Linked DNA regions of Homo sapiens: region 2 is linked to region 1. The links come from fine-mapping of genetic effects on gene expression. A gene starts in region 1. The other region holds a variant in brackets. All regions are shown on one strand. Distances are between the middles of the regions.

Evidence for each region.
Region 2: its variant is fine-mapped to the expression of MAMDC2 in lung (TOPMed, PIP above 0.99). The same link has a PIP of 0.9 or more in fibroblasts.

What each region holds. Positions count from the first base shown.
Region 1 is chr9:70,033,912-70,049,804 of GRCh38, forward strand. It overlaps MAMDC2 (MAM domain containing 2), which reads left to right and starts at 9,937. Exons shown (of 14, transcript NM_153267.5): 1 at 9,937-10,320; 2 at 10,673-10,786. The coding sequence starts at 10,287. LOC124902179 (a long non-coding RNA gene) reads right to left here and starts at 10,130. Exons shown (of 2, transcript XR_007061571.1): 1 at 10,043-10,130; 2 at 1-288. RefSeq lists an enhancer at 4,399-4,916 and a silencer at 9,922-10,216.
Region 2 is chr9:69,981,062-69,996,954 of GRCh38, forward strand. No RefSeq gene overlaps it. Among named protein-coding and RNA genes, the nearest start is that of MAMDC2, 55 kb to the right of the region's middle. The variant C/T (reference allele first, on the strand shown) is at 9,285.

The sequences.
Region 1 (15,893 bases):
AGTATTTAATTTTGTTGATGATGAAAGGATTAAGGCAGTGTGTTCTTAATCCCAGCTCAGTAGAATCACCTTCAAGAGACTTAAAGAAATACCAATACTTTGCTTCTATCCCAGAAATTATTATCTGATGAGTGCCAGTCTTTGTATTAAAAAGAAACAATTCCTCAGATGGTAGACAGAGCTCATGGACAGCTGGAGCTGTGATTTACTGGATTAGGTCATTGAGGCATCCCGCAACGTCTGGTAGTAGAGTTTCTTCATTATCACCAATTGTTTGGGCCTTGCGTACTGGGAAAATTGGAAAGAATTAGTGTCATTTGACATCTTTTAAGTCTCCAGTGTTCTACCTGTTTGCATTTCAGGCCTCCAGATTTAGCAGTAAGCCTGTGACTCAGCTTCTCAATGCTATTGTGTCTTTGCACACCATGCACACACCCCACACACCTGTTCAGAGCTGACATTCACTATCTGTCATCCTCCCAGTTGGTGTCCATTCTGTCTCTCAGTGCCAAGGCCTTTATTATGAATATCACCCCATCCGTGTTCATGTCAATCAAATCACTGTGTGTGGATCCCCACTCTAACGGATGAATATGTCAGAGATTATGAATCAGAAGCTAAGCTGGGGTTTCATTGCTGTTCTTGGAAATGTTTTTGGCTACAGAATGCTTTATTTTTCCTGTTTCCATGCCAAAGCACTCAAACAAAACTTGTAAAGGAGAAAGCATACCACCTGGGTTTAGCCTAAATTGCTCATGGGCCTCCCTAGTCTCTGGAGCCACCATTAGCTAGAATATGTCAAATTCTGGTGTGCTCTTCCTCACTCTTAACCCTAATAGGCAACACAGAGTGTTAGCGCCTGGGATCTGGGGGGTGTCCTAGGGGTGAACATGTGTGCACACAAACCAGCCTGTACCTCTGACACAGCCACGATGCTGCCCATTCTCACTGCAATGACCTCTGAAATGCCAAAGTCATGGTTGTTGGTAGCAAAGCGGGGCATGGCACTGCTGCTCACCTGCTTTCATTTTAATACTGTCACAATCCTTATTAATGCAGGTTGTAGAGCCATTTGTGGCCCAGTGTTTTTTTAGAGATTTAGGGAAACAGATTTTTCTGGCTTTCCCAACAGCCTGGCGTTACTCTTGGACTCAGATAGGAGACCATGGAGCTGGGCTGGGACAGACTCAGGTGGCAGGATCCAAGCTGTTTCATAGTCTCTATTTCCCTCCAACATCCAAGGCCTGGCACTTCCTTCCAGAGGTTAAGTTCTCTCTCTGTGGCCTCATCTGCCTCTCAGGAAAGTGGATTTTTGAGAGTCTGCCTTTCTCCGGTTTGCCAAATGTGCTGCCCTGACCCCCGCAAGCCTGCTTTTACTCCCTGTTCAGTCTGTTGCTCCTCTTCAGATTGGCTCTGTGCTCCCAGAACACACCTGTGATTTCATTTTTATACATATTCCCCTGGGTAATTTAAATGTAGTTCTTTTTCTTCTACTCATAGGACTGCAGCTTAGGCTGGTTCTTGGGCCATGTGGACCAATGAGGATATGCTATTCCTTAGACTTTCCTTCAACAAACATCTTTTGAGCGACTACAATTAGCCATGTATAGAGATAGCACAGGAGCAGATACAAAGATAAAACACACTTGCTCTGCTTTCTACCCTTGAAACTCAGTCTCTATCGCAGAACACAGAGACATAGACAAAGTCATTGTCATACAGCGTTCTGTGGCATGAATGTTTATGTCTGCCCCAAATTCATATGCTGGAATCCTCACCCATGAAACGATGGCATTAGAAGTGGGGACCTTTGGGAGGTGATTAGGTCATGCGGGCAGAGCCATCATAAATAGGATTTAGCACCCTTATAAAAGAGGCCCAAGAGAGACCCTTGCCTCTTCTGCCATGTGAGGATACAGTGAGGAAATAGTTATCTGTGAAGAATCAGGCCCTTACCCAACACCCAGCCACCAGAATTGAGAAATACATTTTGGCTGTTGATAAGCCACCCAGTGTATGATACGTTGTTATAGCAGCCTGCACAGCCTAGGACACAGCATCATACATGCTGCAGCACAGGCACACCAACAACATAGGAGAGGGGCCATTTGAACTGGGTCTTGAGAAATGAATAGAAATATATTAGTTTGTAGTAACTAAGTACCACAAACCAGATGGCTTAAACAACAGAAATTTTTATTATCTCACTGTTTTGGAGGCCAGAAGACCAAGATCAGTGGCACTGGTGTCGGGGATTGTTCCTTTTGAGGGCTGTGGGTGAATCTGTTTGACGCCCCTCTCCAAGCCCCTGGTCTTCCTGGCCTCAGCACTGCCTGTGGGTAGAGGTAGGAGGCCGGGGACCTGGGAACCAGACATTTCAAAGTTCTGCTCACACCTTCCCTGTGTTGGGTGGATGGCATTGAGGTTATAAGGGCTTTGGTAGGAGCTTGAGCTGGCTCCCGCCCCAGCCCTGTACTTTTGAGCAAGTCACATCAAATCTCTGAGCCTAGTTTCTTCCTCCATGAATTTACCATGAAACCACCTGGCACATCACAGACACTTAACAAAACATGGTAGTATTATCACTGTGACTGGTCAGCCCAGAAAACCTCAATTTAAAAAAAATTAGAAGGTTGCATTCAAGCTGTAATGAAGGATGTCTGACTCCCAGCTAGGATCCGGAGTAAGCTGATGAAGAAAAGATTAATGATAGAAAGCATCTATTGAAGTATCTATTTCCTTTAAAATGCTCACTCTAGAAGATGTACCTACTTTATGGGTTCAGTCATTTGACTGTGGCAGTTTGAACAGTGGGCTATATATTTTGTAATAAAAGGAGATTTGTAAGGACTGATTGTCCCTTGGGTCTTGGTGCATCATGGGAGATGATTCAAATCCGTAGCAGGCACATGACTGCTCTTTGGGAGTAAGAGGCCAACAGTGCTGGACAGTAACCAAGGACCATCGCTGGCCTCGGGGCAGAGCCTTCAGTTACCTCCTGCTGGAATGCAACTACGGAGGTCACTGGCAGGACAAGCCCAGAGCCTGGAATGATTTTGCCATCTCGTTTTAGCCTGATTGTGTGTAATGAGTGGGGGCCTGTTGGGTGTATGCAGAGAGAGAGAGACGACATGGAAGCAACACAGACCACTGACTGCAGGAGTGCATATTTGGTCTTTTCTTCTGAATAAAATTAGAATAAAGTTGGTAAAATTCACATGAAGATATTTTTAAAAGTTTACTGGAAAACACAAAAATTTATATCAATGGACCAAGGTAAATATATCAATCTTTATAAATCAATGTACACATTTAATGTAATTCCAATAAACATGTCAAAGATTTTTTTAAAAACACTGAGTGTAGGCCAGGCGCGGTGGCTCACGCCTGTAATCCCAGCACTTTGGGAGGCCGAGGCGGGCGCATCACGATGTCAGGAGATCAAGACCACAGTGAAACCCCGTCTCTACTAAAACTACAAAAAAAAAAAAAAAAAAAAAAAATTAGCCGGGCGCGGTGGCGGGCGCCTGTAGTCCCAGCTCCGCGGGAGGCTCAGGCAGGAGAACGGCGGCGTCAACCTGGGAGGCGGAGCTTACAGTGAGCGGAGATTGTGCCACCGCACTCCAGTCTGGGCGACAGAGCGAGACTCCGTCTCAAAAACAAAAACAAAACAAAAAAAAAACCACTCAGTGTAGAGTGACAGAGATAGAGGTGAGCCCATACAAAGTACATCAGACAGTGAGAGAGAAAGGCAGAAACAAAGACAAAAATCCAGAGACAATGACTTGGCATAGATTAAAGGAGACCCAGGTATTAAGAAAAACAGATTATATATATGAGATAAATGAGAATGCAACAAGGTATAATAACTACAAAAGATGTTACTAATTTTATTATTAATTACCTTACATCTGTGCAAGACCTAGAATATACAAAGTCCTTTCCATGTTTCCAAATACTGGCCAACTAGGAGGTGAGATAATTAATGGCTTCTCATCCCACCACTGCCCTAGAGACATACAGCCTTGGTTAAAAGTCACCTAGACTTTTTCTGCCTCCATTTGCTCTACTGTAGAATGGCATTGCTCCCGTGTGCCTGGCTACCTCCTCTGGAGGAGTGAGGAGGGAGTCACCCTACTCTCTGTCTCCGTGGTTCTATCATAATGCTGCAAACTTCAGCTCAAGAATTGAATTTAACCTCCCAATAGATTTTGTTCTACCCCATGGGGATTTGAGTATATTGTTTTAATTTCTTGGAATGGAATGGAATTGAATGGAATGCAATAGAATGGAATGGAATCAACTCGAGTGGAATGGAATGGAATGGAATGGAATGGAATGGAATGGAATGGAATGGAATGCAAGAGAATGGAATGGAATCAACTCTAGTGGCATGGAATGGAATGGAATGGAATGGAATGGAATGGAATGGAATGGAATGGAATGGAATGGAATGCAATAGAATGGAATGGAATCAACTCGAGAGGAATGGAATGGAATGGAATGGAATGGAATGGAATGGAATGGAATGGAATGGAATGGAATGGAGTGGAAAGGAATGGAATGCATTTAAACTGAATGGATCCGAAAAGAATGGATTGGAATGGAATGGAATGAAGTGGCCTTGAATGCAATAGAATGGAATGGAATCAACATGAGTGGATTGGAATGGAAAGGAATGGAATGGAATGCAACGGAATGGAATGGAATGGAATGGAATGGAATGGCATCTGAAAATCAGGAGTTGTTATATACATATCTGAATATTGGGCTTCTTTTGAAACATGAGCAGTTGGGGTAGAGATGGTTTCTGTAATGCCCTTTAGTTGGACTTACTTACTCCAGTTAACCACAGTCTCCATCCCTCCCTATTTCTTCCGTGTTACCAGATCACTCCATTCATTTACGTGACTTCCTTGGCCTCTAGACTTTTTATATTTGCAGCCTTAATTCTATCTCATCCACATATTTTATTGAAATTATTGTCTCATGGGTCAGTCTCCTGTCTCAGCAGCAGAGGATGTGTCTTCTTGACCCCTGGATTTCCAGCCCCTAGCATAGTGTCTGGCTCACAGTAGGTGCTCAGGAAATGTTTGCTGAGCTTATCATGGCATGACACTGCGTGAGACTAACAAGGAGAGAAAGAAAACAGAAGGGAAAGTGGGCAGTAAAGACAGACTCTGAGATTGGCTAACCTCTGTAGTGCAGTCAAAGGTGCAATCATAAATGCTGGCTTTCTTGCTTTCTTCCCACAGATTTGCTCACACCCCCCAATGCCTCACCTGGCTATGTGGGAAGACACTGGATAGAGAGGAGCAGCAATGCTTCATCTTCCTCACCTTGACCCAGAAAATTAGAAGCAAGAACTTGGTGATCTCCAGGCTAGAAGTGGTACAACAAGGAGCAGAGCCCCTGGTGAAAGGTACCTGGAGGGCGCAAGGAACAGATTGGCAAAGAGCAGAGAGGATGGGCAGGCTCTGTGAGAGGTGAGCATCATACAGGAACCCACAGAGAGAGCAGGGCATAGTGTCTGTGTGTGGTGTAGGCAGCCCTCATTAGGAGAGACAGGCCTGTGTAAGGAGGAAGCATTTAGGGGCAGCATAGTGGATAGCCAGGAGAAGTGGGCATCTGGGATCAAATCCTTGCTGCATGCTGGCTGGACGTGTGACTTTGAGCAGGTTAATTGACCCCCTCTGGTCCTGTCTCCTAGTCTATAAAATGGGGACAATAATGATATTCACCTCATAGGGATATTGCATGGATTAAATGAGATAATGCATGTTAAGTGCCTGGCATGTGTTTACTTAATGCACTCTATATTAGTTTTCTATGGTTGCCAGAACAAATTACTACAAACCGGGTGGCTTAAAAGAACAGAAAGCTATTCACTCACAGTTTCAGAGGCCAGAAGCCCCAAATCAAGGTGTCTGCAGAATACAGTCTTCTGGGGCTCTAGGGGAGAATTTGTTATTCCTTGGCTTGGGGCTGCATCACTCCAATCTCTTTACATGCCATCTCCATCTTTACGTGACCATTTCCTACATGTGTCTGTGCCTTTTCTTCTGACTCTTATAAGGATACTTGCCATTGATTTAGGGCCCACCTGGTAATACAGGATGATCTCATCCCAAGATCCCTAACTTAATTAAATTAGCAAAGTCCCTTTTTCCAAATGAGGTCACATTTGCAGATTCTGGGATACGGATGTATCTTTTGAGCCACCATTCAACCTATTACAATACCTAAGTACTGAGTGCTTTCTGTAAGCCAGAACTTGATATGTGTTATTTGATCAGTTGCTTAAGCTAAATCTTGGAGAATAGCATTCTGGGTTCCTTGGGACCTGATCCTGTTTTCCCAAGTAATAAGAGGGTACCATGTGGGTGCTATGATTAGTGACCAAAGGAAGTTGGTTGACGTAGTTTCTAGATTCTCTGGCTTCCCTCCTCAGTCTTTTTCCCTGCATCCTGACTTAGGCCACATACAATATTTTTTCCTTTCTCTGCAAAACGTCTGTGGTAGGCATTTTTATGCTGTCCAGATCCCCCTTCAAGAAATGACTTTTAGTCCCAGCGGCTTGGAGTATTGTCATCGGCCTTCAACTTCTGATCCTCCCCAGTGCAGAGAGCTGCCTCACTGGAGATCACTTCTGTCCCAGCATAGGCCACAACCAGTGACAGATGGAGACAGCAGTACAAATGCCCTTTCATTTCAGCCTAACATGAGACAAGTTAGATAGGCCATTTTAACTCCATAGTTCCTTGGGGGATTGAAAGAAGCTTTGTGGGATTTGCATTGCAACTCCAATTCTCCCTCCACCCTTTCCTGCTTCCTCTCCCTCCCTTCCATGGCACTGATCCCAAGGTACTCCTGATTAAACACCCTGCACATTAAACTTCAAATCAGAGTCTGCTTCCCAGACATTCTAACTTGTGCCAATGTCTAAGGATCATATATTCTTGGGATCAAACAATTATATGCAAAATAGAAAATTTGGTCTGAGTTTGTACTTATGTATGATTCTGTTCCCATAGGTGGCAATACACAATGTCACGTTAAGGTTGTAAATCATATTTTAAATTTTGGAAGGATCTCTTTAGGGCTTTGAAGTTTTTCATTTTCCTATGACTTAGAACATACGACATGAATCTAAGGCAATTCTAAAACTTTGAAATACTCCTTAAGTATCTGGAAAAAGGAGCACCAGTTTGATTGTTGCTGAAAACTTCTTTAGTTGAAAATAATGTTTTGAGGTTTCGACTGAATGTATAACTGTCTTTGAATTTTTAGTTAAGTAGTGTGATGAAATTCATCAGATATTTAGCACCATCTGTGATCAAGAAGTCAAAAAAAAAAAGAATATAAGACCCAAGTGAGAGAAGTCCTGTACTGGTTGAGAAAATAGGCTTTTGGAATAAAGCAGATCTGGGTTTGAGTTTTGTCTCTACTGTCCACAGTCACTGAACTCTGTGCCTCAGTTTCCCCATCTATTAAATGGGGATAATGAACATATTTATCCTGTAGAGATTTTGTGAAGCTTAAATGAGATTATCTACATAAAACATTTATAATGGTAAACACAATAAATGTTATTATTAGCTACTACCTGAGGCAAAGCATATAAATAAAAAAAGATACATATACACCAAATAGCACACACTAATGAATAAATTTTTGACCATTTGAATCATTGTTTACAGAAAACACATGAAAATTTGTTCCTACCTTTAAAAAAGGATTCCAGATATATTTTCCTTATTAGGGAGAAGGTTACTAATTTTCTAATACTGAAAGTGACATCTGAGTGAAGACCTCATTAGGCGGTGAGTTGTGTGGCTCTTTGTGGAAGAGCATTTTGAGCAGAAAGAACAGCCAGTGCAAAATTCTGAAAGGATAGCTGGACTGTGTTTGAGGATCAGCCAAGAGGTCTGTGTGGCTAGAGAAGAGTAAGCAGGGTGATTGAAGTCAGAGAAATAAGAGGGTGGGGCTGGGTGCAGTGGCTCACGCCTGTAATCGCAGCACTTCGGGAGTCCGAGGCAGGTGGATCATGATGTCAAGAGATTGAAACCATCCTGGCCAACATGGTGAAACCCTGTCTCTACTAAAAATACAAAAATTAGCTGGGCGTGGTGTCACACGCCTGTAATCCCAGCTACTTGGGAGGCTGAGGCAGGAGAATTGCTTGAACCTGGGAGGTGGACTTTGCAGTGAACAGAGATCGCACTCCAGCCTGGTGACAGGGTGGGATTCTGTCTCAAAAAAAGAAAAAGAAGGAAAGCAAGAAAAGAAAGAAAAGGGTGGAGCAGGTCCTATAGGGCCTGGTTGGTCATCGTGAAGACTTTGGACTTTACTAAATGACTTGGGAACTTGTTGGGTCTTGAGCTAAGGAGTGACATGGCCCAATTTCTGTATTAAAAGGATAACCCTGACTAGTGTGTTCAGAATAGAGTAGGGTGGGCAGGGCAGAAAATGAAGGGAGACCGTGGTCAGGAGGCCACTGCGGTATCCCAGGTTGATGGCAAGGGCAGCTTGGACCAACCAAGGCATCACCACCATGGGCACAGAGCATGGTCAGCATCTGCTGTGTTTTGAATCCTGAGCTGATAGAAATTGGCAATGTCTGACAGGAACGGATGAGCTGAAGATGCCTCCAAGTTTTCTCTCCTGAACAACTGGAGGAAAATAGTTCTTTTACTGAGATGAGGAAGACACAGGGGACGGGCAGGTTTGGCAAGAAATATGCAGCCTTCATGTTGGGACCTGTTAAGTATGAAATAGCTCTGAAGCATCCGATTGGAAATGTTGAGGTGGCAATGAGATCGAAGAGTCTGGCGTTAGTGAGTAGTCTGGGTTAGAAATATAAATGTGGGAGTTATCAGGCTATCATTGGTATCTAAAACTATGAGACTTGAGGACAGCATTGAGGGGCTGGATAGAGAAAGAAACAGGAGTGACAGGGAAGAACTTGGAGGCACTCTCATGTTAAGGGGTTACAGAGGTAACGCAAAGAGGCCGAGAAGCGGCGGCCAATGAAAGACCAGGAAACCCAGCGGTCTGGAAGCCAGGTGAAGGCATGGGAGCAGGTTGAACTGATGGCTCAACTGGAGTTTGTTAGGCCAGTGGTCCTCAAAGTATTGTTCCAAACCCGCTGCGGCAGCAGCAGCCTCTGGAAACTTATTAGGGACGTGCAGCCTCTCAGGCCCACTCCAGAGCTACTGGATCGGAAACGGAGGGTGAGGCCCTTCAGCAGATTCTGATGCACCCTCAGGTTTTAAAACCACTGCCCTCCTCACAAAATTGCCTGCACAAAATTATAAATGGGAGAAAGGAGGAGGAGGAGGAGGAAGAGGAGGGGAGGAAGAAGAACTCTTTACAAGAAAAGAATATTGTTGGAGACCCACTTAGTGCCCAAAGCAAACAGCTTCCTCAGAAGTAACTCCCTCCCCAACAACCCCCTCCCAGTGTAAAGCCTCCCATTAATCAATCTATCATGGCTCTTTGGAGAGAAGGAATGCCCCCATTTCACCGGACGGAGGGAATGCTGAGCACCAGGCATGCCAGACATTCCACCGGCTAAAAAAAGTGGGGGTGGTATTCCAGGGTTAGCATTGCTGGACCGTAAACGCTGAAACTCCTTAGATATAAAGCTTATTCCACCCAACCGTTTCCAAATTTTCCTCCAGGCTGTCCTTGGAGAATTCCACCCTCTTTCATTCTGGGGAGAAGAAGTTAAAATTAGGGCCAGCCCTGCGGGACTGACATGCCAGATGCAGGGAAGCTGTCCCCAGAAATAAGCGAGTTCCCACCGCGGCTGGGCGGGGCGGGAGCCTCGGGTCCCAACCCAGCGGAGGGACTCCTGGAAGGCCTGCCCCTTCCAAGTGTCTGCAAGGGCTCTGGTCCCAAGCTTTAAAATCCTGAGCGAAGGCACTGCGGGCCGACCTCTCCTCTCCCAGCCAGTCGTGGCTGGCCTTTCAAAGTGTGCAGTTGTCTCCTCCCTGTCCAGCCCCATCGTCGCCCAGGACCAGCTGGGCCGCGGTCTGACCTGAGGCTGCTGCTCAGCGCCGGGGCGCTGGCGCTCTCCATTCGAGCACCTTCCAGCATACCGCTCGGCTCCGGGAGCCGCTCTGCAAAGTTGGGCAGCTCAGAGCGCAAGCTTTGCCTCTCGACTTCTCCCTCCTTGGGTCCCCGGCGCCCCCGCCTCCCACGATCCCTTTCACTAGGAGCAGCCAGTCCCAGCGGGCTGGCAACTTGCACCCCTTCCTAGTCATCCTCCCTGAAACGCGACCATGCTGTTAAGGGGCGTCCTCCTGGCGTTGCAAGGTAAGGCCTGGACCCCGGGACAACCCCGGGGGCGCTCTGACGACTCGCCCCCGCTCCTGCTGCCCCCGGGGGTCCGGCTCACCGTGCTGGGCTGGGCCATCCGAGGGCGCCTCCTGATCCTCCGCAGCCGCTAACTCCCTCCCCTGGCCAAGCCTGGGGTGGGGGTGGGGGTGGGCGTGGGGTCGCTCAGTGGAGGCGCCCGGGGATGCTGGGGGACAGGTACTGCATCCCTCTCCCGCCCCCTCCCGCTCGTCTTTCCCCCACTTTCACCAGGTAGTCCCCCTGGGGCTCCCCGAGTTGGTGCAAAGGCTCCTGGGTGGAGCTCGAACTGAAACTCGCTTTGTGCCCGCAGCCCTGCAGCTCGCCGGTGCCCTCGACCTGCCCGCTGGGTCCTGTGCCTTTGAAGAGAGCACTTGCGGCTTTGACTCCGTGTTGGCCTCTCTGCCGTGGATTTTAAATGAGGAAGGTAAGGAGGCTCGGTGGAGAGGGGCGCGAAGTGAACTTTCTTCCTTGATGGCTTGCTTTTTTTTCCCACATGGGTAATGTTATCTTGGAGTTAATTCTCCGCGGCAAGAAAAGTGTGAGTCATGGATCCTCCTTCAAGCCCTCAGCTGTGCTGCAAGGGATGGCCGAGGCAGGAACGGGGCGGGCGGGAGGCCGCCCTTTGTTTACCTGGCCTATGGGTAGAAGCTTAAAATTTGCGTCTCACCCCAGCACTCCTTAATGGAAGGGAGAAACGGAGCACAGCTAATGATTGTTCTCCGCTGTGGGCCTCTGCAGGCACACCAGCTGTGTGCCTCTGCAGGCCAGCAACCTTTCTGGTCCTCAGGAGACATGTCTGTGAGTTGGGAAAAGTTGCATGGGACTAGTTCTCCTTCAGCTTTGCAGAAATGGTTCCACAATTCTGTGATGGGACGTCAGTGCTAAGACATCACGTCTGCCTTGACCCTGACAGTGTTTTTTGCTGCATGATTTCATCCTCACACTCCTGTTTGTAATCCTGCCCTGGACAAAAGAAACCATGTACACTGCCAAATGCCTGGGGTCCCTGTCTCACTGGTGGTCATTGTCTTACTACTCTATACTGTTTGGGTCCCAAGGACAAAGTTTAAATGTGGGGTCTTCTGAAGTGTCATCTTGCCTTTATATAGTTTTTTTTGTTTTTTGTTTTAAAGTGTGGTTCTCAGTACCCAATGGCAGGCGGCACTGGGTGTCCCTTCTTTCCTTTCTCTCTCTTTTGTCACCACCAGTGAAGCCTGATGCCCACAGACTATTTGGATTGGAAAATAGCCTTCTTTAAAAAACATGGTACCCTAGATGAAACCAGCTCACCTCCTTCCCCACTCAATTGTCCTCAGGCCGCAGATCCTCCCACCTCGCTCCCTGGGGGAGGATGGAGCCCGGAACCCCTGGTTAGATGTATGAACTGTCACCACAGCTCACTCTGCCCCAGGCTTCTACTCAGGGTTCTGCATACATTAGCTTCTCTGACCCTCACAGGTAGGTGATGTTGGACCCGTTTTACAGAGGAAGGAATCTCAGCCATAGAATATTCAAATGGCTAGTCCATATCACAGTGTCACTGAGTGGCTAACTCTGAGTGTCTAGTTAGGAAGAAACAGGAAGGAACTGGTTCAGTAGTAATCTCCATCTTTATCCAACAATTGCCAAGTCTTGACTACTACAGTCTACTTAGGGGTGGCTGGGAAAAAGCAATTCTTGATTTATTATTCGAGGGATTCCTATCTTGCTGATGGCTTTAGGAAAGTCTCTGTAATCTTGCCACTCACCCTTTCCCTATACTGGCTGTATGGAAGCATTGCGGGAGATGGCCTTAGAAATGCCACGAGACTGGCTTTGGAGAGCACACTCCTCCAGCACGGGGCTTCTCAAACCTCAGCTGCATCAGAATCACCTGGTGGGCTTGTAAGACACAGATTGCTGGGCCCCACTTCCTGAGTGTCTGATTCAGGGGGCCTGAGAATTTCTAACAAGTTCCCAGGTGATGCTGATGATGCTGGTCTCGGGACTACACTTTGAGAACTGCCGACTTCCACAGTCTGTGTACACACACACACAACCTGTGCTGTTGTTGGCTCTGAGTAGGTCTGGCACTAGGGTGAAGGAGCTACTTGCAGGACCCGAGAGTGAACAGCTACTTAAGTCTTGTTCCCTAAGCACTTGGCTTGCCTCATCCTAGTGCTGGCCCTGAGAAAAGGAAATCAACATCATTCCTTAAGCCAGGAGCCTTAGTTAGTCTCTGAGTTCCTGCCTCCGGCCCTCTGTCAGGATGGGGGCCCCCTCACAGCCTGCCTCTGGTCAGTGGGCATGCCACAGCCTGCTGAACACAACTGCCTCCCAGACCCACAGGAAGTCTCTCTGCTGAGTTGGCACCTCTGCCCCAGGACAGCAGTTAAACCATCCCCCTTCAGGGAAAACAGGAAGATGCTTATAGAAAAAGGTGATTACAGTTTAATAGTATAACGAAGGCACTGTGGCTTTGCTTTCTGCATTCTTTCTAACAACCACTGCTTTCTGGCTCAGGACTGGGACTACTGGGTTGGCTGGCGGAAGTTAATTCATTCTCCTCTGAGCACTCCAGGGTGGAGCAGGCAGGTTAGGCTCCAGTTGTTCCAGCTTCAGTTTGTCAAAGGCCAGAACTTGGACGTAACAGTGTACTGCAGGCTCCAGGGCAGTGAGGTAGGTGTGTGGCAGTTGCTGTGGTTGCCTAAGAAGACATCGCTAAGAATTTCCCTTATAAGCCCATTTCTAGGTTGGTAAATTAAAGATAATAAAATTCTTCCAGGCTGAAATTTGGCAAGCTGTTCACAAGCTTCTCTGCAAATGCACTTCTTCCTGCAGAAACCCTTTGAAACTGGTTCCATGGTTCCATTCACCTTCATGTACTGGATCCACCATGGAAAGTAGTGGGTTTCAGAGACTTTTGCCCACATGCACTTCTTTTTTTTTTTTTCTTTAAGTTCTGGGATACATGTGCAGAATGTGCAGGTTTGTTACACAGGTATAAATGTGAATGGTGGTTTGCTGCACCTATCATCCCGTCATCTAGGTTTTAAGCCCCGCATGCTTTAGGTATTTGTCCTAATACTCTCCCTCCCCTTGCGCCCCACCCCCAACAGGCCCCGGTGTGTGAAGTTCCCCTCCTTGTGTCCGTGTGTTCTCATTGTTCAACTCCCACTTATGAGTGAGAACATGAGGTGTTTGGTTTTCTGTTCCTGTGTTAGTTTGCTGAGAATGATGGCTTCCAGCTTCATCCATGTCCCTGCAAAGGACATAAACTCACTCTTTGGTATTGCTGCATAGTATTCCATGCTGTATATGTGCTACATTTTCTTTATCCAGTCTATCACTGATGGGCATTTGGGTTGGTTCCATGTCTTTGCTATTGTAAATAGTGCTGCAATAAACATATGTGCCAGATGCACTTCTTATATGTCCATGGTCCGTAGGTTAATTTATTGTGGAGAGAACAATGCAAAAGGCCAGAGAAGGAAGGTAAGTTGGGACACAAATCTGCGAACTGGGGTTTCATCACAGGAGAATCAAATCTGGAGGTAGTTGGAAAAGTCTCCTTGTCTCTAAATATCCCCTTTGCTGCCTGAAATAGTTTCTGAGGTTCATGCCTTTGATTTACAGTATTAAGTCCCTAGATGTCCCTGATTACAGTTCGAGTGTCTCTATTTCATGGCCACTTTAAAATATGCTTTATCTCCACTGGACACAGAATAGGTAAGTTTTGACCAGGCATTGTGTTGGCTTGGGTTATTTATCCCAATGGCAGTTTCCCCCAGGGAATGCCAGGTGCACCATACAGGGCATCGGGCACTGAAACCCAGTTTTGTCTACTTTCTCATTTTGCCCATGGTTGTCCTGCTTTCTTGATCTCCCTCTATTCTTTTTGTAGAATATTTTAATTTTCCCTAACTTGTCAAGGGAAGTGATACTATGTCAGACTCAAATTTGAACTCACTTCTAAATCTTAAGTTTGAATTGAATCCGGCAAAGAAGGGATCTGTTTTTGTTTTTTGTTTTGTCTCTTTCAGAAGGAGTCTCACTCTGTTGCCCAGGCTGGAGTCCAATGGCGTGACCTCGGGTCACTGCAAACTTCGCCTCTCGGGTTCAAGTGATTCTCCTGCCTCAGCCTCTGGAGTAACTGGGGCATGCACCTGTAGTACCATCTACTCAGGAGGCATGTGCTACCACCCCAGGCTAATTTTTGTATTTTTAGTAGAGATGGGATTTCACCATGTTGGCCAGGCTGGTCTTGAACTCCTGACCTTGAGTGATCCACCCGCTTCGACCTCCCAAAGTACTGGGATTACAGGCATGAGCCACCGCGCCCAGCCAGGGTTCTGTTTTATCCTGTGAAAATCTTTCTCCATTCATTTATCCTATAAAAAAAATCATCTTTATTCACAGCTCAGAGGATCTGGAAACCCCTTTGAGCAGCAGTCCTCAGCTGAAATCGGGGCTGCTTATTCCATTTTCCTGATGCCAGCTGTGGGGGCAGAGGTCCTTTGCCCTGAGGATTCTTGGAGACCATGCGGTTGGCCTTGCATCCAAACAGGCACAATTCAAAAGAATCATTGAGTGGATATTGGCTTCATTCTCATTTTTGGACATTGTGGCTTAGCACCTTTAACTGAACTCTGTGAGGAAGCCACTTGAGGAGCTGAGGCAGGGTAAAGCCAAGTCTAGGTGTTGCCCCTTAATTAGGAGTTTGGAACACTCAGCTACCTGGAAGAGGAAGGCAGCTGCAGAAATGTCTCAGGTGAACAGGAAGTAAAAAGAGAAATTGAAAGCACTTGTTGCAGAGAAGACCTACATTGTTTTTCCATGGTAGGAGTCAGGGTTTGAGAAATCGCCTAATACAGAAAAAGGTTGGATGGCTTTTGTACCCAGGAGTGAGTGATAGCATCTGAGGCAGGCAGGTGGGCTACAGGGTTGGGCATCATGAAGGGGTGGGGTGGGGGCATGGTAGAATGTCCCGAAATCACGTGTAAATACATGTGTGTTTGTCTCTCTGATACCCTTTCCTTCACCCAAACTTGTCCCTTCTCTTTTAAGGACACTCTCAGCTCCTTGGCCATCTGCGTTTCAGTTCTGCACTCAGTCATGTGCCAGTTATTATTAACAGTGATGAATCCTGCCTGCTATTTCTTGAGGCTCAGCTAGAGCCACAAATCTGGCAAGGATCCCAGGTTCCTGGGAGAGGAGAACCAGTCTTCTTCCTGCAGACTACAGCTCCTTTCCTGATTTTGGAGGGCTGATTCAGCATCCCACCCTGGCATCACAAAGTTCATAAGGCCAGGGACGAGTTATGCTCATCTGCATGGGGCTACTTGGTCCTGCATTATGTCTGCAGGTTGTTCTTAGAGCTCTCTAAGCAGAAGTACAATCCCCACATTGTATGGGGGCTGGAAATCGGCACAAGTCAGGGATGTTCCTTGACACCCTCTGGGAGAGATGGTCGACCCCAGAAATGTGACCTAGTTACACTTGCAGTATCACATGCCATTTCCCGCTGCTGCCCTGGCTGTGACTGCTCTCAG
Region 2 (15,893 bases), 53 kb before region 1:
AGCAGAGAGGAATCTCTCCTCTACTAATAGTTAGCAGCTGTTCAAACAGAGGTGCTAACCTCAATTGTCTTAACCAAAAGTGGTTGAAAAATAACGTTTAAAAGAAGTGACAAGGTGCTATCTCTAAGTTTGAAGGATTATGCAGCAAAGGTTGGAATAGAAAAATAGGAGGCTCTCAAAGATATTCCTCAAACTTTAGCTATTTTGCTCAATCTTGGGCTTTTGTTGGATCTATTGTCTGTGTGGATCCAACATACTATTTGAGAGAGAAGTTGTCCTGACTTCCATGACTCAAGTGTGTGTTGCATAGGTAACATTGGGGGAGAGTCTAAGAGAGTTTGGAGAGAGATTCATATTTAGCCACATCCTCAAGGCTTTCTCATCAGCCCCAAATCTGACTGAGCCTTAAATCATTAAGCTGAAAGGAAGAGTTAATTTTCATTGGGCCTTGTTTTCATATGAAAGATAATTACAAATAACTGCAGTGAGATGCCTGGTGAGGGTTCCTGTTGCATGGTTCCCAGGGAGGGGTAGATTCAAGTTACTCCTATTTGTCAGTCAGTATTTTTCATTTACCTATAACCTTTTCTTATGAATTAATTCCAAGTGCTCTGTTGAAGGCTTCTCCGGACGGAGTCTCAGTTGTATCTGCCTTGGCATTTTTCCAGCCCCTACTGTTCCAGCTATAGGTGTTTAATTGACATTGCACTGAGAGAGGATCTCATGAACATTTAAAGCCCCAGTGCATAGAGGCACAAACGCAGTCAGAGGAAGTGGAGTGACTGGCTTCATTTCTCACTTGAAGGGCTATGACCTATTAGAGAAGAATGTGGAAGCCAAGAGTCAAAGGGAGGGAAAAACGCAGCTCATGCTGGAATTCTAGACGCCCTACAACCCCTGGGTGATGTACGGGTTGCTCTTGAAGGCAGAAATCTGCTCTCTTCCAATTTCTCTGGCTTTCATCCTTAAAGCTTGTCCATAATTTCAGGCTGGTTGAAATGGATGCCATGTTACTGGGATCTACACTGCACCACTTAAAAAATATTCTCCTTTCACTTGGCCTAAACAATGTGTATCTCCTTTTTACCTCTTCCTGTTGCAGAGATAAAATGCTCAGCAAGGAGTTAATGGTTTTACAGTGATGCAGCTGGCAGCAGTAGATCACAGAGCTCAGTACAGGAATCCAATTATTTCCTTTGTCTAAGATGAAAACCTATACTTCAGGGGTGGGGGAAGGGCCTGTGCTGTAGGGTTGCTTGATTTAAGATTTTGTTCTAGAAAGAAGGATGGTTCTCTGATGCAGCTCAGCTCCTGGGTCACAGAAGCTTGCCTTTCTCCTGCTTGATGTTAGCCACCTGAACACACTTGGGATCCAGGAAATAGGAAAAAATAGACTCCTTTTTCTAGGTTTCTGACTACTTTAGAGCTTAGAATGTGCAACTAAACTAGCCTTAAATATCATAGGCTAATGATGATGGTGACTCCAGAAACTTACTATTAATGTAGAGGACATTTTGGCAGCAATTTGTAAGGAGAAGATGCTTCTGAGGTCTCGGAGAGCAGATGTAGAAAGAAATCTGCAAATGCGTAGACAGATAGGATAGATAGATAGCTAGAAACTCCTCTCTCTGGGGCTTTCTGTTGACTTAAGAGTAGGCAGACACATTTCCAATTCCAAATCAAAGAAAATGCTTGGGTCTCATTTAAAAAAAAAGTAATCATTGCAAGATTCACAAAGAATAGAAACAGGTAGATAGTTTCACAGTCATTGGAAACTACATTCATCTTGTCCCAACAATATCATGGAAAGGTACAATTAAATCATTCTCATAAAACAGCAAAAGGCCCAGAAAGGTGAGAGACTTATGAAGGGTACAAAATAATTAGAATCAAAGCTAGGACTAAAAGCCTTGCAGGGTGGGATAGGACAAGAATGTGGACCTTGAAGTCCAATAGATCTGGATTTGAATTATTGTTCTTCAGCATAGCAGGTCTGTGATGGTGGGTAAGGGAAATCCACTTATTTGAGCTTTTATTCTTTCATGAAAATGGGAAAATAATGCTTACCTGATGAGTTGTTAAGAGGATTAGTGATAATGTACATAAATGTGTTTTTCCCATAGTAATTCTGCAGAGTAGATGAAAGTGAACAGTGGGCACTACGATGGAAAGGAAGTCAGATTCAGATTATGAAGGAACTAGAATTCATCAGCTGTGCCTGGCAAGATGCTTGGTTACAAAGAGCAGAGATGGGCTTTGACCAATAGTGATATGGCATGGCCAAGCCTACTTCAGCATTCTATAGGCTCAAATGCTCATTTCTTCTCCACATCCTCTCCCCACCCTTCTCCATCCTTCTCTGCCACAGGAGACTGACTTTTATGACCATGTCAACAGGCTCCCTTGCCCATTGCTTTTTGCTTGGGTTTGGCCAAGGTGAGGCACCAGCGGGAGGATGAGAAGAGAAAATGATCAAAGTGTTTTCCCCTCTGGCTGTCTCCCTGCTGGGCCAAGAGGAGCTGTATCTGTTTCTCTTGGAAGGCCAGGGCTCTTTTGTGTAGCCCTTTCCTATAGCTCCAGCTATGGCTCTCTCCTTTTTAAAGTAACCCTTCTTTCTCTTGCTCCTTCAGCTGTGGGAATGATAAAAGGCTCTCTGCTTTAACCAGTCCCAGAGGCTTCAGCACGCCTCACTGGTTTCTCTTAACTCTGTGCACACCTTTGTAAATAGTCCCTCATGAAACTCTCCTCAATAACCTTGCATGTAGTATCTATTTGCTGCAGAGACTCTTCCGTTTAGAGCTGAATATTATTGTCCCTATTTTATAGATGAGAAAACCAGCCCAACAGCATGTTGAAATACTCTCGTAACTCTGGGCTTGAACTCAGATTGCAGATGCCCATCATAAAACTCAGGCTCTCTCTATGAACTGTGTCTACCCCACTGCCTTCATGTTAAAAAGAGCCCATGGCCTTCAGCTGAAGTATTACACTCTGGCCTTTCACACACTCGCGCATGTGTGGGGACATGCTTTTGGAGGAGTGCCCCCTTCTTTCTATGAAGAGTCGATCCAGCTCTATCCTACCTGCCAAATGGAATCTGGGTCTTTGTTTTCAATTGTTGAAGAACCTCTCCTTCTTCGGTTAAAAGAATTACTCTGAATCCCCTGTTTTTACTCAGGAATACCTCCTGAGATTTTGATATTTGTAATTCTGTTAAGCGTAACTCTTAAACGCAATTATTGGAAAACAACCTTAATAAAATCTGACCCAAGGCAAGTCCTGAAATACCAGATCATAGAGGAACCTAATTAACTACTTTTTTTCCTGCTATAGAAGCCACAAAGCACATTAGAGCTGGAAATGGCCTTAAAGATTATTCAGGCTCTCAACCTAATTTTAATAACACAGACCCTCTTAAAATTTGAAGAAGCTATAAACCCTCTCTCAAGAAAAATGTGTATTTTGTCTTGCTTGTTATCTTTCTCTCTCTTTTTAAAAAATAGAGACAGGGTCTCACTATAGTTTCCTGGGCTGTTCTTGAACTCCTGGGCTTCAGCAATTCTCCTGCCCCAGTCTCTCAAGTATCTGGGACTACAGGCACATGCCATGGCACCCTTTCTCTTTCTCATTCACGCATCCACATGTATACACACTCTTACCTTTTTTTGATTCATTGTCATTGTGAAGCCCACTCATGGGTTCCCAGATTAATGACCCCTCTTTTAGGCAAATTCCTTTGGTTTGCAGATGAGGACGCTGATACCTACTCAGATAAAATGACTTACCCAGGGTTAGAGGTTCATATTTTGATCAGATTGGGCTGTTATGCTGCAATAATAAACAACAATAATCTCAGTAGCTTAAAACAACATTTTTCCCCCTCATTCATGTAGTTTCCTCTGTGGCTTAGCATGGGGCTCTGCTCTTTGTCATCTATACTCGGTGATGCAGGGTGACAGACAAATGCCTTCTAGAATATCATCCGTCATCATGACAAAAGAAGAGAAAGCATTGCAAACCATGCACATGCACTGATTCTTTAAGCTTCTGCCTGAAAGTGACACATCACTGCTGGTCGTACTTCATTGGCCCAACTGAGTTCTATGGCCATGCTTACCTCTAGGGTGGCAGAGAAACAACTGGTGGAGAACACAAATGACTGAGAAAGCTGGAAAAGCCAGAGTAGAACCAAGGCATTGTTTTATTTATTTATTTATTTTTGAGATGGAGTATCGCTCTGTTGCCCAGGCTTGAGTGCAATGGTGTGATCTCAGCTCAGTGCAACCTCCACTTCCTGGGTTCAAGCCATTCCCCTGCCTCAGCCTCCCAAGTAGCTGGAACTACAGGCATGTGCCACCACACCTGGCTAATTTTTGTATTTTTAGTAGAGACAGGGTTTCATCATGTTGGCCAGGCTGATCTCGAACTCCTGACCTCAAGTGATCCACCTGCCTCGGCCTCCCAAAGTGCTGGGATTACAGGGCATTGTTATTTTTTGTCTGAGTCCCTCTACTCTTCTAAGGCTACCATTATCATTATCTAATTCATCTGGATGTAGCCTGTAGAAGATTTGTCATCCACTTAACAGGGTTATGTTTTTGATATAAAATTGAGTCTAACTTGGAGATTTCTGTTGTTTTATTTGTAAATGCTGATTTTCTAACAGTTCATTTAAGATGCTATTGCAACAAAGGAGACCTGTCTCATTTAGGATGGGCCATTATTGATTTTATAGAACACTCATTTTTCAAGTGAAAACCTTTCCTTTCTATTGTCTGGATTGCCCTTATTTGTCTTCGTTTCTAATACTCATTTATTTCCCCTGGTCCTCCATAGCTTGTGGCCAATAGTGTTACCAATGCAAACACAGAGGAGTCTCTGGATTTTTTTTTTTAATTTAGCAATTGATAACAGTTGCACCTCTATTTTTATCTTCCATTATTCATTAATTTTATATTTTATTGAATACTTGCTTCTGCTATGAGGATGGTAATAAGGGTTAAATTACAAAATTTGCCTAGCCTAGCACAAAGGAGTTGCTCAAAACATGTGATGTGGGATGTGTGTGTGTGTGTGTGTGTGTGTGTGTGTTTATTTTTTATTTTGAAATCAACATAGGATGATGACTAAGAGCACACACTCTGGAGTCTGGCAGGGTGGGTCAGCATCTTCATGCAACCACTTACTATAAGCCATTCGATTTTTAGATGATTTTGTCAACCTTTCTGTGCCTCAGTTTTCTCATTGGCGAGATAGGGCTAATAATGCTACCAAACTCCTGGGCTGTGGTGAAGAGTAATTGAGATAATATATGTACAACATCTGCCACAGGATGTGGTTTGGAGAAATCAGCATGCATATTGGAAAATAGGATCGCTATTTGCCAACTGGGTAGTATATCGAGTAGGAAAGAATATAGGTTTTGGAATTCAGTAGACTTAAGTTCAAATCTCAGCTCTGTCATGGTGTGAATTGGAGCAAATTACTTACCTCTCTGAGCCCCAGTCTCCTCTTTGGTATCATGTGATAGTCCTCCTCACCTTGCAGGGTATTTGGAAGGACCTCATGGGAATATGACACTACAATATCTCACACGGTGCATCGCACGTTGAAAGAGTCAATAAATACTAGTTCTTCTGGATGTGGTGGGGTACATGAAGATGGATAAAGGAAACAATTCCTCTCCCTTGCCTTCCAGGGGTTCATAATCTCATTGTGGAGATAAAACATATCTACAAATAACTACAGATAACCTAAAATGCTGAGTGCAGTGCAAGAGATACAGCTTATGGGCTGTGGAAGTTTGCATTAGGTGAGTTACTATAGAAGGGTCATTTGAGCTGGGCTGTTGGCTTTGGCTGAGATACTTTAATTTACAAATATCGCTTGTTTTTCTTTCTCCCTCTTTCCTCATCAACCCCTTCCTCACCTCCAAACCCGAGAATACTCTATTATGCACCACTGATAAATTTTGCCCGGAGAGGAGAAATTCATTACCCTCCCTGCCAGCGCAGTTTGCTGATGCACTCTGTTTTCTGGTTGTGATATTTACAGCAGCTCAGTTAAGATTTAATTTTCTATTATTGCCTGAACTTTGCAGCCCTCATTTTTCATTTGCTGTCTGAGAGTCATTGCTTCAGCACCCTGGAACCACTGCCGGAAAGACTTACTTAACATTCAGAATCAATGAACAAACAGGAGAAACGTTTTACTAGAGACAGGGCTTTAGTGATGTGGGGTTTAGCTTTGATTCCTAGCAATAGTTTTAGTCTATTCTTTCCACTTCCTGTGACCAGCTGCATTTCTCCAACTCATTATCGCATAAGATGTCTCAGAGGTACCTGAGCCTGGGTGTTCTCTCCTGGAAATGTTACAGTCCAGGATCTTTCTGGATGTCATTATTATTTCCTTTTAATTTTGGCCTCTGGCCTTGCTTGATAATGTGGGAACCCTAATTTTCCTTTTCCTTTTCTCAGGTCTCTTGCTGGACTTGCCACATGACACAAAAACCTTGTCTAAAGAGATCTCAGGGCTAGCAGGCCTTTTCCCTGCCTCATTATCTGTGGATTCATTTAGTTGATGAGACAGGATTTTGATTAATGTGTTTTTCTACTCCAGAACTCACTGCTGCCTGCAAAATCCCTTCCCTTTTACCTCATGGGAGTGTTCATCAGGGATGTGGGTGTTTGGAGACTTTCTCACCCCACTGCCTTCCATCCTGTGGTCCTTCTACTGAGGCACTGGTAGACTTATGGTCATTCAGTACTTGTGACATTTTGGTACCTGCCTGCCCTCCCCAATATGCATATCAATCCCCTGGAACTGGGAGCAGCCGTTTTGTACAATTTGACTATGCCTTCCTAGAGACAACATTGGTAGAATGGGAGCTTAACAAAAATAGGGACAATGAGTCTTTTCCATGAGATATTGGATTTGGGACTGAGAAAGAATTGGTCCAGTCTCTTTATGAGGCTGTAGCCACAGATGCAAAAGTAAGGGGAGTTGGATGCCATTTTTCTTCTAGGTAGAGCCAGTGTGCAGTGAGAAAAATGGAGCAGGCAAGCACAGAGGAGATGTTGAGATGGAGGATCCAGAGGGCACATGGTTCCAGCTGTTCCTAAGGCCCAGGAGTGCCTTTCTTCTTGTGGGGTTGACACTTCATTGGGTACCACAAGATATCATCAAACCTTTCCAATAAATCTCCTCATTGGCTGTTGCAAGTTGTTTTCTGTCACAGGTAATCAAAAAGTCCTAACTGACACAGTGTTTTGTAATTGCTGGTTTTATGCTTCTGGCAATAGCTAACCAAGCATGAGTTTAGGTTATTATTTAGCACCCTTCTGATTGTAAAGGAAAATGTTAAAACTTCAGTGTGCTCCAAAAAGAGTCACCAAACACACACAAAAAGTTGAAATCAGGGTCTTGAAGAGATATTTGTACAGCCATCTTCCTAGCAGCACTATTGACAATAGCCAAAAGGTGGAAGCAACCCAAGTGCCCATCAATGGATGAATGGATAAACAGAATGTGGGATACACATATAATGGAATATTATTCAGTCTTAAAAAAGAAAGGAAGTTCTGGTATGTGCAACACCATGGATGAATCTTGAGGGCATTATGCTAAATGAAATAAGCCAGTCATAAAAAGACAAACACTGTATAATTCCACTGATGTGAGGTACCGAGAGTAGTCAGATTAGAGACAGAAAGTACAATGGTGGTTGTCAGGGGTTGGGGGAGAAGAAAACGGAAAGTTGTCGTTCAGTGTATACACAGTTTCAGCTTTGAAACATGAAGAGTTCTGGAGATTGTTTGCATAGCAATGTGAGTGTACTTAATATTACTGAATTGTCCCCTTAAAATGATTAAGAAGGTAAAATTTATGTTATGTACATTTTACCACAACTTTTAAAAAGAATCATCAAATTCTCCAAATAACATCTTTGATTTCTGGGATGTGGAGAGAGGATGAACGTGGGCTATGAATGAGAGGACCACATTCTATTCCTTGCTTTGAACTCAAATAAATGATTTGTCCAACGTCACTTCTTTATACCTCATTTCACTCACATGCTCCTTTAATTCATTCACACAAGTATCTGCTATGTAGGTTCTAGGTCCTGTGCAAAATCATGGGAACACAAAGGTGAATAAGAGGGTTGTTGAGGAAACTTGCTCAAAGCAAGTAATCTCTGTGTGGATTTGGAAAGATCAACCAAGAGGATTTCACCAGGTGTGAAAGTGGAAGATGGTATTCCAGGCAGCATGCAAAGAAGTTTCAAGAATTCTGAGAACTTTTTGTTTTGAAGCCTGGGCCACAGATGGAGGCAGAAAGAGGAAAGGGTGGTTGCAGTTGGGGCTGAATTGAGAGACAAGACTGAACTGTAAATGGGCTATCTATGGATTATTTTGGAGGTAGGCAGGGTTTCCTTCTGTGTGTTCTGTGGCCCGCTGGCCCCTTCAGAGGTTCATGAACAAATAATCTGGTTGATGGTCCATACTGTAACCCCCTTTTGGCTATGTTGAGTACCTCATTAGCATACAAAAGGTCAGAAAAATTCCTGCTGTAAAAATCTTGACTTTGTTTAACCCAACAGTTCCTAAACTTATATGACCATTGGGTTTTTCTGTATATCATTTAGTTGCAGACCTACATTTTTAAAAAAGCTTTGGGAAAATGTGTTGGGGCTGGGGCTCTGAAACATAGGGCTTACTTAATTTTGGCTTGTCTTTTTAAAAGGAGGGAATCAAACTCTGAAATGATTTCACATTCTGTATTGTCAAGACTTTGGTCTCTTAACTGCCTTTCTCCGCTAACATTCCTAAATGGGGAGCTGCCATATGGGAGAAGGCAGAGATGTAAGGGGCATCTATGTATATGTTCTGCTCCTAAAGAGTGTCCTGCTTCCTCCTACAGAATCAGGGCTCTCGGACAAGGATTTCAGGGCAAGTAATTTATTTGGGAAGTGATCCCAGGACATACTGATGGAGTATTGAGAAAGTGAAACAGGGAAGATAAAGGAGCCAATAGAAAATATATGTATCAAGCAATTTCCCACGGGGCAATGAAGTCTATTCTCTCTGGGGAGCTCTGGGAGGTAGTGTGCAATGTGTACCTCCAAGTTATTCTATCAGAGTGGCAAGGGGTCTGGGGTATTTACCCACCAGCTCCTGCCAGTGAGTGGTTGAGGGCTGCTTGGCTTAATGCTCTCACCCTTTGGGTTTGTGACCCACGTGGGCTCCAGGCAGAGGCAGGCAGGTGCTGGTCTCCTGAAGTCAGAC[C/T]GACTAGTAAGGGCCAAGGGGATACAGGTGGAGCTCTGGAAGTGTCTGCTATAGTTTCAAAGCTAGCGGGGCTGGAAAGAAAATTGTTACAATGTCAATCCCTCCATTTTTTTATAGTGAATGAAGACTCATTCTGATAGTGTGGCAAGTTTCTTTTGACTACTTCAAGATTCTAGAATTTTCCCTGTATTTCCCTTCCTTTTGACACTATCCCAATGTTCTCATTTCTAATTATTTGTTAATTTAACTCTCACTTTCACTTTTCCTATTCTAAGTCCCCAATTTTTTATTTATTCAATTATTACTCCCAACCACATCAGCCCTTCTGAAGAAGCACCATTTTTCCCATCAAGTTCTTACTTGTGTTTGGACTGGCATCTCCTTCCAAATTGTCTTGAATTTTGTCTAGACAAAGACTCACTGTGCTCATGTCTCCTGGCTATCAAATAGGAGAAAATTCCATGAACCACTTTGGACTATTTCCCCAAATCTGTGCTTTTACTTCCCTCTGAGACCCCACACCAAGCTACATAAACATCTCAGTCTCAGGATTTACACTTCCATTAGTAACCAACACATGCTCAATTGTTATCTATGTTTCATTTATTCATTCAACAAGAATTCATTGGACATCTACTACCATCTACACAAGGCACTGTTGCAAATGACTTGGGAGTGGGAGATGATAGGCAAGGAGGCTGTGGAGATAGTGGATCCAAAGCACAGATTCTGGAATCAGACAGCCTTGAGCATGAGGCTCATCTCTGCCTTGGGCAAGTCACTTTGGCTTTCTAAGGCTCGGATAACTCATCTATAAGATGAAGATAATCATACCAATTTTATGGGATTATTTAGAATATTAAAGGTTATAATGGACATATAACACTTAGTATAGTCCCTGACACACATTAAATAATACATACATAGAATTATGTTTTGTTATTATTACAAATATAAACTGAACAAAGATGCCACCCTGAAGCTGCACTGTATCAAGACAGAGGAACATGGACTAAATATGTATAAAGCAAGATGGAAAGTGCTAAGTGCCAAAAAGAAGTAAAGAATATTCTATGGAAGTCTGAGGAAGCACTGAGAGGAGGAAGGAGAGAGCCAGAGGGAAGCCTGAGGAGGGTTTGATAGAAGGGCAGCGTTTGACCTGGGGTGGTTAGGATTAGCGCATACAGATGCCAGAACTAGGACACTAATTGTATTTGTGTGTTTATTTATACTGTATTATATATTGATATACCACATGCATAAATATTTATACTTGACTCGTATGAAACTATATTCATCCAATCAATAGACATTTACTGAGTATCTACCATAGGAAGGTTATATGACTGAATAGTTATCCATTCAGTCAATAGATATTGAGTATCCACCATAGGAAGGTTACTAGCCTAAATGCTAAGAAAACAGCACAGACACCTGCAAGCATATGTTTATTGAAGCACTGTTCACAGTGGCAAAGATACGGAACCAGCCTAAGTGTTCATCCACCAATGATTGGATTTTAAAAATGTGGTCTATGTACATCACAGAATAATACTCAGCCTTAAAAAAGGAATGAATTAATGTATTTTACAGCAAATTGGATGGAGCTGGAAGCCTTTATTCTAAGTGAAGTAAATCAGGAATGGAAAACCAAAACTCACTGATAAGTAGAAGCTAAGCTATGGGTACACAAAGGCATACAAAGTGGTATAATGGACTATGGAGACTCAGAAAGGGGGAGAGTGAGGGGGATGAAGGATAAAAAACTACGTATTTGGTACAATGTACACTACTCGGGTGATGGGTGCACTAAAATCTCAGACTTCACCACTATACAATTCATCCACGTAATCAAAACCCACTTGTACCCCAAAAGCTACTGAAATTAAAAAATAAAAAAAGACCAGGAAAAAAAAGAAAAAGAAAACAGCAATGCATAAGAACAAGCAAAATCCCAACCTTCATCAAGCTTCTAGCCCAAGGGGCAATGTTCACAATTGTTAAGAATAAAAAGATTCAGAAATAGTATGTGAAGTATGATCCTATTTTAACATATGTATGGATATATAAATGTACATATCATAAAAATGAGGCTGTGAATGCATAGTTATGTGTAAAGAGAAAGTGAGAGCTAAAGCAATAAATTTGGAGAGATAGATACAAAAGTATTAGCAGAGATTCTATTTTAGTGGTGGAATTATATTTTCTCTTTTTTATCTATATGTTCCAAATTTGGGGGCAATAAACTTGTGCTTTATGCATAATGTTAAAAAGTTGTGTATAATGTATGCAATTAAGCAACTAAGTGCTAAAAGTTAGAATTTAACAGAAATTGCAAAGAGCTTTTCTACTTTCCTTATTCCCATCTCCTAAAACAGCCATCATATTTCTAACCCCGAAGGCCTCTTGATGTTCAACTCTTTCTCCTACATCTGCTACCAACCCCATTGTTTGTGGACCATAAATCCTTTAATTTGACAAAATAAAATCTTCAGCTTGAGAGAAGTGCTTTCCCCAAAGAATGCTGTGCTCAAAATCGGAAGCTTTGGGCTTTTAGAGGGAAAAATACTCTATTGCTGCAAATGATTACTATTTCTATTTGCTTTATAGGTTGTTAAGTGTGTAGAAGATGTTCAAATAAAGCTGGCTAGAAAGTATAATAGCTCATGGATTTTTATAATGGAAAACAAACCCCAACTGAAATTAGGCCAGGCTCTCCCATTCACAGAGGTTTCTGATACATAAGTGTAATGCTCCCTCCTGGCCCCCAAATGCAGAGGGGATAGGTCTTGATTCACCACTGGGTGCACTGGCAGAGCCAAATTCTAGGCTGAGGTTTCGGAAAAGTTTGTTGGTCATGGCATCACTCCTGGCAAACACAAATTTATCTTTTTTCCGCTGAGGTCCCAGTTTGCTTGGCAAGACCTAGTTTATCTGGCAAAGCTAATTCATGGTGCTCCAGCTTTTCAGAACTGCCTGCCTCTTGCAAATTGGCTGGGTGTGGTGATTTTAATAGGCTCACTGTTTAGAATATATTTTCACATTTTCTTTCATCTGTTTATTCTTTGGTTTCCTATCCCAATCATTCCTGCCTTTTCTTCTTCATTTGAATGCTGAAAGTTTTAACTGTAGTTTTGCAGTGCATGCATTTATTTCCTAAGGATTTTTTCATCCTGATTGACTGGTCACTTGTAATTATGGACCCTGCTGTCATTTTGAATACAAAGTAAGCAATTTGTCTAGTAATTTTTGTTTAAAAGGTGAAGGTCCAATGGTGGTGGATATAATTTGAGAAATGCTTTACATGAATTTGGGGCAAATGAGAAGGAGTTATTTAAATATGGAAATGAATATGCATAGATATAATTATGTCAATAAGAAACCCTCAAAATTAAAAAAAATCTGATTCCTCATCAAGAAAACCATTTATATAATTGTTTCACTTTGTTACTTACAAGTCTTTGAAATTTTCTATTGCTCTTAGGATAAGCTTCAAGTGCATTAAAGTGGCTTGTAAGACCTGGCCCCAGTCTCTTCTCCAGCTCCCACCCTCACATTCTAATCACAACATAATCAATTTCTTTCATTTCCTCTAGAGTATTAAACTCTCTTGCCTCTGGATCTTCATGTTGTATTTTATCTTCCTGGAATGCTCTTCCTAGTCCTCCATCTGGGTAACTCTTCCTTATTTGTGAGTCTCAGCTCACAGGTGGTTTCCTCTGAGGAGCATCCCCACATCTGCTTGGTTTGGGTTAAGGTCCCCTCCTCTGTGCTGTGTCATCACAGCAGGTCGTTGCGGCTTAGTTCTCTGTCTCTTCTACCAATCTGTAAAATAGCCATGTCTTTCTGTTACCATTTTATCCTTGAACCAAGCACAGTGCCTGGCTGGCACATAGTAGGTGCTTAATAAATATTTCTTAACTGAATGGGTGCATTGGAATAATTTGTTGAGAAAAGGAATCAGGATTAAAGTGATTTTCTAGGTCCCATGCTGCCCTTGGGTGCCTGAATTATCAGGTCAATTCAGACTGAACAAATATTATTGAACACAGATATGTGCCAGCTGCTTCCACCTACCCTATTTCATTTGATCTCTTCCTTAGCTTTCTATTTTCCAGCTGAGGACAGTCGGACCCAGCGAGGCTAAACAACTTGATCATGGCAACCCATGAATAGAAAGAACCTTGAGTTTCAGAGACCTACCTCATTGCTCTTGGACCTATATCAGGGTGCTGTCTCTTTAAACATGTATGTGCCTGTTATTCTCTGTTGCCACAGCCATCCACTAGGCTATCTTATTAGAACATAAGAGCTCTTGAATTGCTGACATAAAAGTTACAACTGAGACCAAAATCAAAATGGAATCCTGGAAAGGAATTGGGGAAGGAAGCGCTGGTCTAAGATTCCAGACATTTGAGTTTTTGTCTTTCCTGTGTGACTCTGGGAAAGTTGTTTAGTCTCTGTGGGCCTTAGCTTTCTCATCTATACAATGAGTGGGAATTATTGGATAATTTTGTAGGGGCCTTCCCACTTTAAATTTAATGATCCTTGCAAGCTGGTATGAGAGTTAAACCTTAACACTTTGAGAAAATGCTGGAAATGTCGTATTAGGAATGACACCACAGACTGCAGCCTTATTTCAAGTTAAGTAAATCCTAGAAGTAGATGTCCACTTTTAATGGAAAAAAAATGATACATTTTATTTCCATACTGAATCAACTTCCTACCTTAAAATGGGATTTCTGCTATGAAAATGGCCTGACAAGTGACACTGTGGTGTGGGTACATAAAAACCAAACCCCGCAGAACTTAGATGTAAAAATTTCTGAGGACCTTCACCTGTGTGACAAAATGTAGAATATACCCCTTTAATAGATTCAGAATCAAGAGATACATTTCTAGTAGGGCTTTTGAAGTATTGAGACCTCTCATGGAAAATGGATCTCTTTTCTCTTTTAGGAATGCTGCACATTTTTTGAGAAGTTAATTAAGAACAGCATTGTTTTCTCCTTGACAACAAATCAATGATAACATTCTAGAGTTTTATAGCACTTTTCTCCAAAGTACTTAATATATTCAATATATCCAAGTGAGAAATCCTATTTTTCTTGTTCATAAAATTGCTAATTTGTCTCAGTGACGATGTAAAGACATGTATTACCTATGGATATAGAAAGTGTTTATTTCATCTATTGAAACTCAGAAGAAAACAAGGAATGGGTTGAACTTCAGTGTTAAATTGTGGAGAGGAGCTTCACTTGAGTTTCACAACAGCAGCAATGATATAGATTAAAGGAGCAGAGCTCATTTTGATGTTGAGTTTTGCTGTGGTCTGAATGTCTATGCTACCCCAAAACTCATACGTTAAAGTCCTAACCCCCAAGGTGATGGTATGAGGAGATGGGACCTTTGGGAGGTAATTAGTCATGGGGGTGGAATCTTCATGAATGGGATTAGTGCCCTTCTGAAAGAGGTTCCAGAGAGCAGCCTTGTCCCTTTCACCAGGAGAGGACACAGTGAGAAGGAAGCATCTATGAACTAGGAAGCAGGCCCTCACCAGACCCTGAATCTGCCAGCATCTTGATTTTGGACTTCCCAGCCCCTCCAGAACTGTCAGAAATAAATTTCTACTGTTTGTAAGCCACCCAGTATGCAGTATTTTGTTGTAGCTGCCTGAACAGACAAGACAAGCTTAAATTAGACATTCAGAGTGAACAGATGTCCCATAGTGAACTCCATGGAATTCCAGGATGAGCTACAAGAGCCAGTGGAAACATAATAAGGTAGGAGAAAAAGATAATAAGCAAGAAAAAAAAGGATGCAGTCAATGCAGAAGAAAATGATGCTGAGCTACGTGACTCAGGAGAAAGTGAGATGGAAAGTATATAAGAAATTGTAAATGATAAAAAGTTATGGTGAGAGCTTGTTGATATCATTTGGATATCTGTACCCTCCAAATCTCATGTTGAAATGTGATCCTCAGTATTGGGGGTGGGGCTTGGTGGGAGGTATTTGGGTCATGGGAGTAGATCCCTCATGAATGGCTCCGTGCCTTCCTGCGGTAATGAGTGAGTTCTCACTCCATTAATTACCATGAGATCTGATTGTTAAAAAATGAGTCTGGCACCTCCTCCTCTCAATTTTTCTCCCTCTCTTGCCACATGACATGCCTACTACTGCTTCATCTTCTACCATGATTGTAAACTTCCTGAGGCCTCACCAGAATCAGATGCTGACACCATACTTCTTGCATGGTTTGCAGAACCGTGAGACCAATAATTCTCTTTACTTTGTAAATTACCCAGCCTCAGATATTCTGTCATGGCAATGCAAAATGGATTAATACAATTGCTAAGACTAGAAACATGAGTTCGGAGTGGGAGAAACATAGTAAAATCAAGGGTGGTAATTATTAGAGGGTACACTTGACTTGCTATCAAACATGCATTCCTGAAAAGTTGTGTGAAAATCTAATTGTCATAAAGTAAAAACATATTTAATAGTTAATTATTTAAAGGAAATTTATGTCTGTAAGGGAAAGGGTACTTTTATATCACAAATACAAATCCCCTAAATTATTTCTTTTAAAATTCCAGATTTTTGTCTATG